Homo sapiens: one gene and its partners. The protein of the gene in region 2 purifies or fractionates together with the protein of the main gene of each other region. This does not show direct contact. Each region holds a gene or a part of one and is shown on either strand. Other genes may lie near its edges. The genes, in order: KGD4, EIF4H, PGD, NDRG1 and LIN54.

Region 1 (2,921 bases), on a different chromosome or scaffold from region 2:
GGCTAGAATGCAGTGGCACAATGTTGGCTCACTGCAACCTCTGCCTCCTGGGTTCAAGTGATTCTCTGGCCTCAGCTTCCCTGTAGCTGAGATTATAGGTGTGTGTCACATTGCCTGGCTAATTTTTGTATTTTTAGTAGAGGCGGGGTTTCACCTGCCGGCCAGGCTGGTCTTGAACTCCTGACCTCAGGTGATCAACCTGCCTTGGCTCCCCAAAGTGCTGGTATTAACAAAGCATGAGCCACTGCACCTGGCCTGAATCATGTTTTTCAATGAGTCACCTGAACAGCTTATTGCCAGCATCAAACTCTCATATTTGTGCTGAACAACATTTACACTAGGCCACAGCAAAAAATTTATAAGAGAAGTAGATCAACTCTGTGGAGTAGTAGAAATAAGTAAAAATTAACCCACAGTCAACTGAGTAAATACAGAAGCATACTCAAAGCCAATTCTATTTCTTGCTCATGACCTACCCTTAACTCTCAGGGAGGACTTCTTTAAAGCATATTCTAGAAATCATTAAAGGTATGGAAGAGAATTTATTTAGCTTTGTGAGGCTTTACTTCACAATATACGTACCCTTGGCACAGGAGGGGCCCCATTAAAGTTTCATAAACTGCTTAATAAGTAAATATGTTGATTTTATGAGGCTCTCAGACATTAAGTTTGAGAAGGTTAATGGTTATCAGGATTTGCATACAAGATCACAAAACAGTAAAATAAACCAAAAAACAAGACTTCCTTACAACCTCCAAAACATAATAAATTGCAATTTCTAGTGAAATCTTTATTCCTATGCTATATTCATTTTGATCTCTTATTTTCCATTTTACACTTTTTGACTTTCTTTGGAATCTTTTGTATGATCTCTATCTTAATAGTATAGTCACCTATTTTAGCTTGACTATATTTTTATCATTCAGAGTAGGATATACTTACTAAGCCAGTTATACTCCAGTAAACTTGTGAATGAAAAAACATTAGAGAACAGAGAATTAAGAACAAGTAATAGAGTAATTATTTCACTGATCCTCACCCAATTTCAGGAAAATCATGTCCCTAAAACAGCAATTCTGACTGATAAATTTTTCCATGCCTAAACAGAAAGTAAAGTGAAATTATGGGAATCCTATGATAGTTTACTACACATTGTGTGCTTTTAATAGTTCAACACTGGTAATGTTTGATAATCAAGAGTAAATTAATAGGCTAACATTTAAAAATGTATACTTTAATAAGTATAAAGTATATAAACAATTAGGTAAGCTTGTGGAGAAGCTGACCAAGATACATAAATTAGGAAATACAAGTGTCCATCTAAATTTTCTATATTTCATTTTTTTCATAATATTTATTAAAGGTGTTTAATATACAGTTTCTCATCTGTCATTTTGGAAGTCCTTTATTGTAAAGACAATTCTATTGTCTGATGACAAACAGCAGCCACCATGGTTATTCAGGACCTCCACGCTGAAAAGGAAAAAATAAAGCAGTAAGATTAGATGTTAAATTGACTCAGGAAATGTTTTGATGGCAATTTTACAAATTTATACAATCTTCAGTAAGTAATCTTTGGTTTTTAAAAAATAGTTTTGAATTAGTCAAAACTTTTGGGTACTCATATCAATTCTTTTTTTTTTTTTTTTTTTTTTTTTTGAGATGGAGTTTCCGGAGTTTCACTCTTGCCCAAGCTAGAGTGCAGTGGCGTGACCTTGGCTCACTGCAACCTCCGCCTCCCGGGTTCAAGAGATTCTCCTGCCTCAGCCTCCCGAGTAGCTGGGATTACAGGTACCCACCACCACACCCAGCTAATTTTTGTATTTTCAGTAGAGACGAGGTTTCACCACATTGGCCAGGCTGGTTTCCAAGTCCTGACCTCAGGTGACCCACCTGCCTTGGCCTCCCAAAGTGCTGGGATTACAGGCATGAGCCACCATGCCCAGCCCTCTTATCAATTCTTATAATTTCAGACCTGGAAGGGACTCAAGGTTGACCTGTCCTTAAATTTCTTGGTATCAGAAGCTCTTTACACTCTGAAAAATTATTCAGGACCCCAAAGAGCTGTTTTTTATGTGATTATATCTATTGATATTGATATATCATGCATATTTACAGAGGGATTTGACTATGGTTTCTTTCTCATAGTCTTGGCCTACCTGACCATCCTGTCTTAGCTCTGACCACACTCTGACAAGACAATAGGAATAGCATGTAAATCAGCAAATGAAATCCCCAAAGCCCAAATGTTATGGTGTTTTGCGTAGTCTTGGGATAAAGAGCAACGACATACTTGGATAAATTCCATTTCTTCTTGAGACACAAGTTTCCTTCTGTATTTCTGAGGTAATGTTTTTATTATTTCTGCAGTGTCTGGTGGACCCTGATACATCAGCAAATCTGGTGATTTACTTCCTTTAGAATGTTGTGAAATTACAGAAGAGTGAGATGGTAGCCCTGCTGATCTCAAAGCTTCTGATACTGAAATTAAAAAAAAAAAAGACCTTATTAGAGAAATTGTTCAGATGTCAAAATACTGAGTCTTAAAATACTATCAAATAATCAAGTCATTCTTGAAATGAAGTCATTCTTCAAATAACTCTTGAAGTATTATAATTCCAAAAGGTAAATATTGTAGAGTAACTCAGTTGGCTATATATAATTTCATAAAGGTTTTTAAAAACAAATAAGGAGGTAGCTTTAAAATTTTTATACATTTATTGTTTACAGATGGGGTCTTGCTTTGTTGCCCAGGCTGATCTTGAACTCCTGGGCTCAAGCAAACATCCTGCCAGCCATCCCACCTCAGCCTGTGAGTAGTCAGGATTATAGGCATGTGCCACTGCACCCAGCTAAGGGGCAGTCTTAAGTAAATGAATTACAAAAATGTAAAATAATGAAATTTCTAGTTAGTGGAATTC
Region 2 (3,522 bases):
AACCCCTTCCCATCCTCCCCTACACTTTACAGTAATATACAATAAGAATCCCCCAAACTCACCTTTAAATTTATCTGTGTCTTTGTCTCTGACTAGCCGTACACTCCTTATGCTGAGATCCTTAAAGATAGCATCTATGTCGCCCTGAACCGTATTGAAAGGTAGATTTCCTACGTATGCTGTGTAGGGGGGCTCTGTGGGCAACTCCTTCTGGCTACGGGAACCATGGCCACCAGCACTGCCGCGGGACCTAGGAGGGGAGACAAACAGGATTCAAGTGTGCCCAGAGTGGAATAAGCAAAACAAGTAAAGCGGTCTTCCGCTGAGCTACGCCGCCAGCGCCCCAGGTGAGGCACTCTGCTCGATGTACCACAAGACTGTTACAGAGAATGGCTGGAGAAACAAAAAAAAAGGAAAAGAAAAATTTTTTGAGACAGACTGTCACTCTGTCACCCAGGCTGGAGTGCAGTGGCACAATCTTGGCTCACTGGAACCTCTGCTTCCCGGGTTCAAGAGATTCTCCTGTCTCAGCCTCCTAAGGATGCTGAGATTACAGGCATGTGCCACCACACCTGGCTAATTTGTGCATTTTTAGTAGAAACAGGGTTTCACCATGTTGGCCAGGCTGGTCTCCAACTTCTGACCTCAGGTGGTCTGCCTGCCTCACCCTCCCAAAGTGCTGGGATTACAGGTGTGAGCCACCATGCCCAGCCCAAACGTAACACACCTTCCTAAGACAACTGCTTCTCTCCTATTCACTCAGAATCTGTATCTGCAGTATTTACATCCTAAAACCTAAGCAAGTACCCTCCTTCACACACCGTGGTTCTAAGAAATACAGAAATGGACAGTCTAGAAGTAATGTTGTATTCAGAAGAAGGATTACTGAAGTTGTTTACGTTTAACACATTCATACATAATAGAATTATTTCTCCTACCGCTTGAACCTGGGAAGCGGAGGCTGCAGTGAGCCAAGATCGCACCACTGCACTTCAGCTCACGCGACAGAGACTCCGTCTCAAAAAAAAAAAAAAAAAAAAAAAAAAAAAAAAAAAAAAAAAAAAAAAAAAAATTTCTCCTTGTTGCCTGATTATGGGCATAAGAATGTCCTAATAAAAATTTTAGATGTCACACAGCAAGTACTGACGTACCTAACACTCTCGTGCAATACTTCACAGGGTCCTCAAATACATGCGTATGGCGTGCATTACCAATCCATTTCAACCTCGATGTCATCTCCTCAGCTGTATCAAGCGTCGTTTACTCTGCATAGGTATTGGTTTAAATCTAGCCTCTGTCACTTACTAGCATATGACCTTGAGAAGTTATTCAACTTCTCTAAGCTTTATTTTATTTGTAAAACTGAGTTAATCCTAATACAGCATTTTGGGAGGCCGAGGTGGGTGGATCACTTGAGGTCAGGAGTTCAAGATCAGCCTGACCAATGTGGTAAAACCCTGTCTCTACTAAAAATACAAAATTAGCTTGGTGTGGTGGTGCATGCCTGTAATCCCAGCTGCTGGGCAGGCTGAGGCAGGAGAATCGCTTGAACCCAGGAGGTGGAGGTTGTAGTGAGCCCATTGCACTCCAGCCTGGGCGACAGAGCGAGAGTCCATCTCAAAAAAAAAAAAAAGACATCAGAATATAGTATAAATAGATTATTATATTAAACGATATTTGCCATAAGAATGCCCCAGGAACGACTTAAAGTCGTTAGAAGTGAAGTGCCAAGATGGCCAACATTTGTTTTCAAGCAGGTCAGCATAAAGGGCATGTGTGCCGGTATACAGCAAGGATTCAGCAAACAAGGCAGAATAGTCACTTCTGCATCCACTAGCGTCATCCAACTGTACCATTATTTCAACCTTATTGTAGATTTGAAAATTTCCAAAATAAAACGTTTGGAAAACTCAGGAGGAAAAAAAAATTAAGGGGGTGATTTTTTTTTGAAACAGACATTTAACCCATTTCCTGTTTGCTCCAAGAATACCGTGCTGGCAGCCAACTGCAGTTTTTTTTTCTAAACGGGAAATGCGTTCAAATAAATGAGATCCTTCACAACAACCCAAGACCTGCCCAAAGTCACCCTCTTTGCAGGGGAAATATTAATATCCATCTTAGAGAGCAACCTGGTCTTTCATCTACATACTGCCAGAAACACAATGGAAATTCCACTTCTTCCTGAAGATAAATTCCAGGTGTCTTGCAGACAAATATTATTCATTAAAGCATTTTTCTAAAGTAGAAGGGTCAACCAAGCTGTGATGATTCTTTGATGGTTAAAAAAAAAAAAGCTTTTAAGTTTCATAATTCACAATTCCGGTACTTTCCAATAGGAAGTTCCACGTTCTGTTCTAAGACCACCAGAAAATAGGTTTACAAGTGAATTGCATCCTACCTGCCCACTTCTCCCATCTTTTCGGGCCTAGTAAATGTGACTTACTTTGCATTTCAATAACCTTTGCCAATAGTACTCTATCGCTGATATCTCCGAAATCATAAATCCTAAAATATTTTCAGTAAGATACTATTTAGGACGGGATAATAAATATATGAGTTACAGTATAAAGCCGGGCCCAGTGGCTCATGCCTGTAATCCCAACAGTTTGGGAGGCTGAGGCGGGAGGATCACTTAAAGCCAGGAGTTCAAGACCAGCCTGGGCAACACAGTAAGACCCCATCTCTATAAAAAATACAAAAAATTAGCCGGGAGTGATGGTCCACACTTGTAGTCCCAAGCTACCTGGGAGGCTGAGGTGGGAGGATCACCTGAGCCCAGGAGGTTGTTGCTGCAGTGAACTGTGATGGCACCACTGCACTCCAGCCTGGGTGACAGAAGGAGACTGTCTCCAACTGAAGAAACAACAACAACAACAAAAAGGCGGGGCACAGTGGCTCATACCTGTAATCCCAGCACTTCGGGAGGTCAAGGTGGGTGGATCACTTGAGGCCAGAAGTTCAAGACCAGCCTGGCCAACATGGTAAAACTCCGTCTCTACTAAAAATACAAAAACTAGCCAGGTGTGGTAGCACACACTTGTAATCCCAGCTACTTCAGAGGCTGAGGTGGAGCTTGCAGTGAGCTGAGACTGTGTCACTGCGCTTCAGCCTGGGCTACAGAGCGAGACTCCATCTCAAAAAAACAAAAACAAAAAAACACAAAAAACAAACAAAAAAGCACAAAAAACAACAACAAAACCAAACAAACAAAAAACAAGATACAGTATAAACATGTGGAAAACCATAAAAATGGAGGGTCAATGTTAAAAACAGTTTAAATTCATTACTCAACATTAAACATCTAGTGATGCGTAATGATGTTAAAAGACTGTCTTGTATGTAAGCAGCTCACAGTTGTGTGGGACGTATAAAACACATGTATATATGCAGGTATGTTTGTGTGTATGAATGTGTAACATATACATAAAAACTAAAAAGGAGGGTGAGGATGAAGAGAGATGATAAACTCTCGGGTGTTTGATGTAGTTGCTAAGTAAGGAAAATGGAGGTGCGAAGGCTTGC
Region 3 (2,496 bases), on a different chromosome or scaffold from region 2:
TGGCGGGCACCTGTAGTCCCAGCTACTCTGGAGGCTGAGGTGGGAGAATGGTGTGAACCCGGGAGGTGGAGCTTGCAATGAGCCAAGACCACGCCACTGCACTCCAGCCTGGGTGACAGAGCGAGACTCTGTCTCAAAAAAAAGAAAAATAAATTAAAAGTTGGTGATTTAATGAAAATTGTCTCCTTCACTGACATTAGCCGAGAGGTCAGAGGTCACACTGTAGACACCAGCTGTCGAGGCACAGGCGCTGCTCGCTCCTCTTAGGCAACTCTTAGGACTTTAACACTCCAGGGAAATCATCATGAAGTCAAACCGCTGCAGGGAACAGTCACACTGGCCCCAGGCCACACAACAATATCACTGGCAGGTTTTATCTTCTCTGAGTAAGTAAGATAAAGTGAAAAGCCTAGTTTAAGGAGCCGGCTTAGCTTGTTCAAAATCCCTGGGCCTGGCTTAGAGCAAGTAGAGACAGGTGTGGGAAAGGAAATAAATCAGACCAAGCTGAGCCCATCATTAAAGTTTAATTCTCTAGAAAGTTTAGTATGAAGTATTTGACATACAAAAAGCCATAAAGAATGTCACGCACAGCTTGCCAGGAGCAAAAAAAAAAAAAAAAAAAAAAAAGACGAAAGAAAAAGCACGTTACAGTGAACGTCCATGTACCCATTGCCCAATTGGAGAAAGAAAACATGCCCAGTGTATTAAAGCCCCTGGTGTGTCCTCCCTGCCTGCCTCCTCTGAGTGAAGCATAATCCTAAATGTGGTTTCTTGTGTTATTCTAGTCTTTTTTTTTAAAGAAAAATCTTTCTGCCAATGGGGATAATGGCTCCATGTGGCCGAGGTGAGACTAAGAATCTGGAGAAAGAGCATCAGTCTGATGTAGCTTTTATTGAGTAAAGGAAAAAGGGAATTCAGCCGCATGATACAGAGGTTCCAGTTGATCAGAGTGCGCAAACACCCTTCCTGTCTGCGTGATGGGAACCGCACCAGCACACGGGGCACGCGGAAGCCACTGCCGCAAGGAGATGGTTCCCACTCTCACGCACATGAGCAGCTCCTGGTCAGTCCCAAGAGGCAAGGGCAGAGGGCATGGTGGCTCTCACAGAGCTACTTTACAAATAAACTGTGTGTCTTCCTCAGGAGTCTCTTACAACACTTTTAAAAAACTGAACAGAAAATAGGGCAAAGGGCCAGGTGGCAGTGCCATGAGGCACATGGAATGTCCTGGTCTGTGGAATCGTGGAGGGTGACAGGAGCAGCATGATCAGGCATTGTATGACGAGGATGACACGGTGCCACCATGGCCTGTCCAGTTGGTGTGGATAAACTGCCCTGGTTTGGCCAAGAGTTCATAGGTGTGAGCCCCGAAGTAATCCCGCTGAGCCTAGGAAACGAGAGAGTAGGTTGGTCAGGACAGTCCATGGCGCACGCCCCCGAGGGGCCAGCCAGGTTAATCCCTGCTCCACAGGCTTACCTGGATGAGGCTGGCTGGAAGCATCTCATGTCTGTACCCGTCATAGAAGGAGAGGGCAGTGGTAAAACAGGGCATGGGAATGCCAGCCTGGACCCCAGTGCTGACTGCCCGCCGCCAGGAGTCCTGAGCACAAAACGCACGGCCAGAGATTAGTGATCTGCCCCTGGTGACGCGGATAGATTTTCATTCATATCAATGTGGGTAAATGAAAAACTGATGGTTAGGCCAGGCGCGGTGGCTCACGCCTGTCATCCCAGCACTTTGGAAGGCTGAGGTGGGCGGATCACGAGGTCAGGAGTTCAAGACCAGTCTAGCCAACATGGTGAAACCCCATCTCTACTAAAAATACAAAAAAAAAAAAAAAATTAGCCAGGTATGTTGGCACACCTGTAGTCCCAGCTACTTAGGAAGGCTGGGGCAGGAGAATCGCTTGAACCCAGGAGGCGGAGGTTGCAGTGAGCCAAGATCATGCCACTGTACTCCAGCCTGGGTGACAGAGCGAGACTCTGTCTCAAAAAAACAAAAAACCAAAAAAAAAAAACAAAAAACCAAACATCACAACTGATGGCCCCAGGGAGGTAGAGTAACCATGGCACCAGCCCTAGGCTACATACCTGGCAGTTTTCAACAGCTGACTTAAAGAAGTCGTCCAGTAGGAGGTTCTGAAGTTCCGGGTTTCGATCAAATGCATCCTTTATCTTTCCTAGGAATACACTGAAATAATCAAGGGGGGAAAAAAGCAATGAGTCTTTTTTTTTTTTTTTTTGAGACGGAGTCCCGCTTTGTCACCAGGCTGGAGTGGAGTGGCACGATCTCAGCTCACAGCAACCTCCACCTCCCAGGTTCAAGCGATTCTCCTGCCTCAGCCTCGCCAGTAGCTGGGATTACAGGCACGCACCACTACAACCGGCTAATTTTTGTATTTTTAGTAGAGACAGGGTTTCACCGTGTTAGCCAGGATGGTCTGGATCTCCTGACCTCGTGATCCGCCTGCCTCGGCCTCCCAAAACGCTGGGATT
Region 4 (3,522 bases), on a different chromosome or scaffold from region 2:
CTGAACCCCACTCCACCCCAGGACTTGGCTCCCTACAATCTGCCCACTCCCAGCCCCCACGCCACCAGGCTGGCCCTCAAAGAACATCTGAGTTCACGGAAGCAGGATGGAAAACTCAGGATTTATTCAGAGGTTTCTACCCACTAGGTTCTATGTGCCCAACACAGAGCTCAGAACAAAAATAACACCAGCTATGGTGATGAGACTGGCTATGGGACTCATCTGGGGATCATGAGCAAACAGACCCAGTTCCTGCCCCCACGGAGCTCACAGTCCCGAGGGGACAGGCACTCCCTTGGGCTCACTCATCAGGCTGCATCTGGGCTGTGTCCACTGTCTGTCTGTCCCCCTGGAGGGCAGAGCAGATGCTGTCTGGACAGCATCCAGGACAGCGTCTGTGCCTCCTGGACAGAGATCCTCAGCTCAGCACTGCTGACATTTGGGCCCCACAAGCAGCCTCTGCCTTAGGGGCTGCCCTGAGCACGGGAGGAGGCTCAGCAGCATCCCTGGCCTCTGCCCACCACATGCCCACAGCATACACCCCACGCTGCGACCAGCAAAAGAATCTGCAAACGTTGCCAAATGTCCCCTGGTGCGACATCCACCCTCCTCTGGAATAGCTGATTTTAGTAATTCCTAGTAGGTAACAGTATCCAGAAAATGTCAGTTGGATGCATTCTTATTTAATCTAGTGCATGCGTGCACACACGCACACACACACACACACACTCTCAAATGCACTCACACATTCCCTCACACTGACACACTTGCAAACTTTCATTCTCACACTCAGACATTCTCACATTCACACACTTATACTCACACATACATACATTCTCACAAACACACTCATTCTCACATACTCACACTTTCTTACACACTGATACATTCTCACTTTCATGGACTCTCACATCCACAGTCATTTATACTCACACGCACTCACACGCACACGTGCACTCCCCACCACCTTCATTCACGGAGGAGGGGGCTGGGCCCAAGCGGCTGCCAGCTGTCCTGAGCTCACCCTGCTGGCTGCAGCACAGGGGCTGGAGTGGAGTCAGATCCAATGTTCACACTCTTCCTTCACTCCACTCTCCCCAAAACACTTTTTCTGGGATTCAAAGTCACCACCTGAGAATCATGGAAGGACCCAGTTCTGGCAGAAGCTGCTGTCTTCTGGTGTCTGTGATCTCCTTCTGCCAGCAGGAAATGGCAGGTGATACGTGACCTGGTTTGGCGGCTCGAGCTGGTGCTTCCACTCCTGCTCCCTCCTCCCGGGCACCTGAGGCCCTCACGGCTTAGCAAGTGTGGCAGGTGGAGCCTGTCCCTGGGCTTGAGGTCCTTGCTGGACTCCAGCTCCTGCCCTCCCTCTGCCTCATGCAAAGTCCTAATCACAGAATGTTGGGACCCACTAGAAAGCATCAAAGAGGTCCTCCAGCAGGTGGGGTGGCAAGGCAGGGCCACACACAGCATGGCGGGGGAACCAGGGCTGACTCCTAGCCCACCAGCCCCACCTTTGGAGTGGCTTGGGACTGACAAACCGTGTCTCCATCTCCAAGGCCATCTTTGCTCCCCAAGAAGCACAGAAGAAACCCCTCCAGCAGGTCTCCTTCAGCTAAAACCCAGCTTAGCACCAAAAACAGGGCTCCAGGTCACAGCACCAGCTGCCAGCCTGTATCTTCACTTCTTTTCCCATCCACCTGCCTGGGAGGAATTCCGAGAAGACCAATGCCAGAGAAGCGAAAGGTAGCCAGGAGCTGGGGGAAGGCTTGCAGGCCATGGTGTCACCATTTATTAGCTCTGTGATCCTGCATAATTTATCGAATCTCTTTTTAAAAATGTATTATTCATCTTGTTTTTTAGAGAGACAGGGTCTTGCTATGTTGCCCAGACTGGTCTCAAACTCCTGGGTTCAAGTGATCCTCCTACTCCGGCCTCCTGAGTAGCTGAGATTACAGGCATATGCCACCATGCCTGGCTATCTAACCTCTTTGCCTCAGTTTGCTTGTCTGTCAATGGGCATGCTAACTCCTGCTCCCAATGATCAGCAGTGGGGCTTAAATTCAAGAATGGCATGGAGAATTAAGCAAACAGTTGCTTAATTCATCAACATACTTTCCTTTCAGGGTTGCCTTGGAGATGCCAGGACATCTGTGAGGATGTGGCCTGGGTTTCAGTCCTAGAGTCCCAGCGAGGAGAGGGACACATGGAAAATGCTCAGCAAATGCCACCAAGGTTTCTGATTATCAGGCCCAGTGCGTCACCACTGGGGCCCTTCTCTCCACCAGCACTGTCTGTCAATGAGTAATGAGGGCCCAAGAGGGGCTACACAAATACCCTTCCAGTCCAGCAGACCCAGGAGAGTCAGAGGAGAGCTGGATCACAGGTGCCAGGCAAAGCCAAGGCCAGGATCTGCCCGAGGAAGAAAAGAACGTGACCCGTGACCCTGGGACCTGGGAGGGCAGTGGGCAGAGGCATCTTCAGTAATCCGACACCACTTGAGAACTGTTCAACAGCCCCTGGGGGACTGAGGGGGACACACAGAGCCTGTGATTCCCAAAAACCTCAGTGGGGCAGCAGGAACGCTGGCCTAGGAATCAGGGCATGGGGACCCTGCCACTTTCCTATTCCATGACTCTGAGCAAGTCACTTCCTCTCTGGGCCTTGGTTTCTCCATCTGTAAAGTAGGCACAGTGTACGTCTATGGAGATCACGCTGTCCACAACAAACTTACAGGCAAATGGAAACCCAGGCAGGAAGGTGCTTCACCAAGACAAAAGGGCCACAGGGTCTTACCAAGGCCCTGCCAGGCTCAGCTCTGGCCAGATTAGCCCCGCACCTTGGACCAAGGCCCCCACTTCTGCCAGCCTCAGACTCCTGTCTGTTAAGACTAGTGCCTTGCTCCAGCTCTGCCACCCACCTGCACACCCTCTTGAGCAAACTCTCCTGGGCCCCGCCACAACTCCCACAGGGTGAGGCTGAAGGGGTATCCAGCAGAGAAACATCCATGATCTGTTCTAGAAGTTCCAGGTTCCGCCCACCAGGAAGAGCAGCCACAGGAAGGCAACAATGTAACCCTACACAGACACACCACAAAAACAGCACCAGGAACAGTATCTGTGGCACTAACTGGACTCTAAACCCGGTACTTCCTTTAAGCCTCACAGAAACCCTAGGAGGGAGGTGCCAGCATGTCACCATTTAACAGACGGGGAAACTGAGGCATCAAGAGGTTAAGATGTGTGCCCCAAGTCAGCAAGCATCAAGCTGGCTGCTTTAAGGTTAAAGCAACCTTAAAGGGAATGTTGACAATGATCTCACATTGCCCTAAATATATCCACAGTCCTCACCACCACCCGTGGCCCAGATACAACGTTGTAAGGTGGGCTGCACGTGACCATGAGGCTTTCAGCGTGTGGAGGTCAGCTGGGACAGTCACATGCCTCTCCTCCACCCTGCAGTCACCACTGAGCCATCATGAGCAGGCTTGAGCTTTTGGCAAAACCAGCATCTTGAACTTTT
Region 5 (3,522 bases), on a different chromosome or scaffold from region 2:
GCCATCAAGCCCAAAGCAATAAATTCTTTTTTTTTTTTTGGAGATAGAGTCCCAGGGTGAAGTGCAGTGGCGCAATCTTGATCTCAGCTCACTGCAACCTCTGCCTCCCAGGTTCAAGCAATTCTCCTGCCTCAGCCTCCCAAATAGCTGGGATCAAAGGCACGCGCCACCACGCCCAGCTAATTTTTGTATTTTTAGGAGAGATGGGGTTCTGCCATGTTGGCCAGGCTGGTCTCAAACTCCTAACCTCAGGTGATCTGCCCACCTTGGCCTCCCAAAGTGCTGGGATTATAGGCATGAGCCACCAAGCCCAGCCCAAAAGCAATAAATTCTTACAGAGAAAACTGTGTCTAGACATTGTGCATGATTTCATAGGATTTATGACATAACCAATGAAGAAAATCATGAAATAAATTGTGGATATGACAAAAATGGTGGGAGGTGAAGGGTTTCAAGATATGCATCTTGGGTAAGGCACACTGGCTCATGACTGTAATCCCAACACTTTGGGAGGCCAAGGTGAGGGGATCACTTGAGCCCCGCAGTTTGAGTAACCTGGGCAACCTAGTGAGATCCCATCTCTACAAAAAATTTAAAAGTTAGCCAGGTGTGGTGGTGTGCACCTGTAGTCCCAGCTACTCAGGAGGCTCAGGTGGAAGGATCACTTGAGCCCAGGAGGTCAAGGATGCGGTGAGCTATGATCACACCACCGCACTCCAGCCTGAGCAGGAGTGAAATCCTGTCAAAAAGAAAAGAAAAAGAAGCCGGGCGCAGTGGCTCACGCCTGTAATCCCAGCACCTTGGGAGGCCGAGGCAGGCAGATCACGAGGTCAGGAGATCAAGAGCATCCTGGCAAACATGGTGAAACCCCGTCTCTACTAAAAATACAAAAAAAAATTAGCTGGGCGTGGTGGCGGGCGCCTGTTGTCCCAGCTACCAGGGAGGCTGAGGCAGGAGAATGGCATGAACCCGGGAGGCAGAGCTTGCAGTGAGCGAAGATCGCACCACTGCACTCCAGCCTGGGCGACAGAGCAAGACTCTGTCTCAAAAAAAAAAAAAGGATAGGAAGGAAGGAAGGAAGGAAGGAAGGAAGGAGGGAGGGAGGGAGGGAGGGAGGGAGGGAGGGAGGGAAGGAAGGAAGGAAGGAAGGAAGGAAGGAAGGAAGGAAGGAAGGAAGGGAGGGATCTTGGAGAAATTCAAGAGCTAACAGATACCATAGCAGAGGAATTAACAGGGGACAACTTGATGGAGATGAGTGCTTCCGAACTAGTGCCAGACAATGAGAAAGAAGATGTAGAAGAAGCACAGAAAACGAACTGACAGTAGACAATCGGCATTATTCAAGACTGCTTTTGAAATTTTTTATGACATGGACCCTTCTACGATACACACAATGAAGCTAAAGCAAACAGTGAAAAAAAGCTTGCTACCACAGAGAAATATTTTTAGAGAAATCAAGCATAGTGGTGCATGCCTTTAATCCCAGCTACTTGGGAGACTGAGGCATGAGGATCGCCTAAGCCCAGGTGGAGTTCAAGACCAGCAACATAGCGAGACCTCACCTCTAAAAAAAAAGCAAGGGTGAGGGAGGAAGGAAGGAAGGAGGGAAGGAAGGAGGGATAGAAAGGAGGGAGGGAGGGAGGAGGGGAGGGAAGGAGGAAGGAGGGAGGAGGGAAGGAGGGAGGGAGGCAGGGGAAAAAAAGTTAGACAGAAATTACAATGTATTTCCATAAAGTTACATCAAGTGTGCCCACCTCTCCTGTCTCCTCATCTACCTCCTCCACCTCTTCTGCCTCTGCCACTCCAGACAGCAAGACCTACCGCTGCTCTTCCTCAGCCTCCTCAACATGAAGACAAGGATGAGGACCTTTATGATGATCCACTTCAGTTCATGAACAGTAACTATATTTTCTCCTCCTTACGGTTTTTGTAATAACATTTTTTCTCTAGCATACTTTATTGTAAGAATATGATATGTAATAAATATACAAAATATGTGTTAATCAACTATGTATGTTATCCGTAAGGCTTCTGGTCAACAATAGGCTATTAGTAGTTAAGTTTTTGGGGATTCAAACATTATATGCATATGTGGATATGACTGCTTGGGGTTGGTGTCCCTAATCCCCACATTGTTCAAGGGTCAACTGTATTTTTTGTACCTAGAGCTTACTACCAGCATTAACTGGTTAACTATACCACTTAGATTTAAGCTTTTTTTTGTGAGTGTGAGATGGAGTCTTGCTCTGTCACCCAGGTTGGAGTGCAGTGGCGTGATCTCCACTCACTGCAACCTCCGCCTCCCAAGTTCAAGTGATTCTCCCGCCTCAGCCTCCTGAGTAGCTGGGATTACAGACGTGTGCCACCACGCTTGGCTTATTTTTTGTATTTTTAGTAGACACAGGGTTTCACCATGTTGGCCAGGCTGGCCTTGAACTCCTGACCTCAATTGATCCGCCCAGCTCGGTCTCCCAAAGTGCTGGGATTACAGGTGTAAGCCACCTCGCCCGGCCAGATTTTAGCTTTTATTTCTAAAATAAAACATCAACAACTAAAAAACCAGTTATAGAACTATATTTCTCAAACTAAACTGGGAGCAGTAGACTATAAGCCATGAGTTCTGATGAAGTTTTGAAAGGTTTGTATTTCCCAGAGAAGACTGGTATGGCCCCTGCACAAGGACGACATGCAAATTTGTGAAGTGTTCCATGAAAAAAACAAATTAAAACAATAAATTTTTTCTGAGACAGAGTCTCACTCTGTTGCCCAGGCTGGAATGCAGTGGCGCAATCTTGGCTCACAGCAACCTCCACCTGGGGGCTCAAGTGATCCTCCCACCTCAGCCTCTGAAGTAGCTGGGACTACAGGTGTGCACCACCATGACTAGCTAATTTGTCTAGTTTTTCTAGAGACGGGGTCTCGCCATGTTGCCCAGGCTAGTCTCAAACACCTGAGCTCAAGCCATCCACCCACCTCGGCCTCACAGAGTGCTGGAATTACAGGCATGAGCTACTGCACCTGACCTAATTTTTTTTTAAAAAAGAAAGGTTTGTATTTTCATTTCAATAGTATTTTTATAAAGTACATTCTGGATCATCTGAATAACCACATCACATCCAAAATCAATGTACAAGAATTCAGATGAGCTAAAGAAAAAGGCACAAAATGGACTTATAAAATAAATGACATATTTATGCCAAATAAAAGCCAAACCACTTAACCTGAGATTTAAGAAAGAAAGACTTGCAGCATTCAAACACAGAAGAGTGGTGTAGAAATTGAGTCATCATAGGATATAGAGTATGTAGAAAACAGGCCGGGTGCGGTGGCTTATGCCTGTAATCCCAGCATTTTCAGAGGCTGAGGTGGACAGATTGCGAGGTCAGGAGTTTGAGACCAGCCTGGCCAATACAGTGACACCCCGTCTCTACTAAAAATACCAAAAAAATTAGCTGGGAGTGGTGGTGGGCACCTGTAGTCCCAGCTACCTGGGAGGCTGAGGCAGGAAAATCGCTTGAACCT

The links.
Region 1: the proteins of EIF4H (region 2) and KGD4 fractionate together in Homo sapiens (co-fractionation; one large-scale study listed by BioGRID). This does not show direct contact.
Region 3: the proteins of EIF4H (region 2) and PGD fractionate together in Homo sapiens (co-fractionation; one large-scale study listed by BioGRID). This does not show direct contact.
Region 4: the proteins of EIF4H (region 2) and NDRG1 fractionate together in Homo sapiens (co-fractionation; one large-scale study listed by BioGRID). This does not show direct contact.
Region 5: the proteins of EIF4H (region 2) and LIN54 purify together in Homo sapiens (co-immunoprecipitation; one large-scale study listed by IntAct). This does not show direct contact.

What each region holds. Positions count from the first base shown.
Region 1 is NC_000005.10:69,227,760-69,230,680, reverse strand, and holds the end of KGD4 (alpha-ketoglutarate dehydrogenase component 4), read right to left. Parts: intron 2,482-2,921; coding exon 2,294-2,481; intron 1,474-2,293; coding exon 1,456-1,473; 3' UTR 523-1,455; downstream 1-522. UniProt on the Homo sapiens protein: Molecular adapter that is necessary to form a stable 2-oxoglutarate dehydrogenase enzyme complex (OGDHC). Enables the specific recruitment of E3 subunit to E2 subunit in the 2-oxoglutarate dehydrogenase complex (OGDHC).
Region 2 is NC_000007.14:74,184,339-74,187,860, reverse strand, and holds part of EIF4H (eukaryotic translation initiation factor 4H), read right to left. Parts: intron 251-3,522; coding exon 63-250; intron 1-62. UniProt on the Homo sapiens protein: Stimulates the RNA helicase activity of EIF4A in the translation initiation complex. Binds weakly mRNA.
Region 3 is NC_000001.11:10,418,521-10,421,016, reverse strand, and holds the end of PGD (6-phosphogluconate dehydrogenase, decarboxylating), read right to left. Parts: intron 2,192-2,496; coding exon 2,092-2,191; intron 1,601-2,091; coding exon 1,478-1,600; intron 1,388-1,477; coding exon 1,268-1,387; 3' UTR 506-1,267; downstream 1-505. UniProt on the Homo sapiens protein: Catalyzes the oxidative decarboxylation of 6-phosphogluconate to ribulose 5-phosphate and CO(2), with concomitant reduction of NADP to NADPH.
Region 4 is NC_000008.11:133,287,236-133,290,757, forward strand, and holds part of NDRG1 (protein NDRG1), read right to left. Parts: intron 1-3,522. UniProt on the Homo sapiens protein: Stress-responsive protein involved in hormone responses, cell growth, and differentiation. Acts as a tumor suppressor in many cell types. Necessary but not sufficient for p53/TP53-mediated caspase activation and apoptosis.
Region 5 is NC_000004.12:83,000,802-83,004,323, forward strand, and holds part of LIN54 (protein lin-54 homolog), read right to left. Parts: intron 1-3,522. UniProt on the Homo sapiens protein: Component of the DREAM complex, a multiprotein complex that can both act as a transcription activator or repressor depending on the context. In G0 phase, the complex binds to more than 800 promoters and is required for repression of E2F target genes.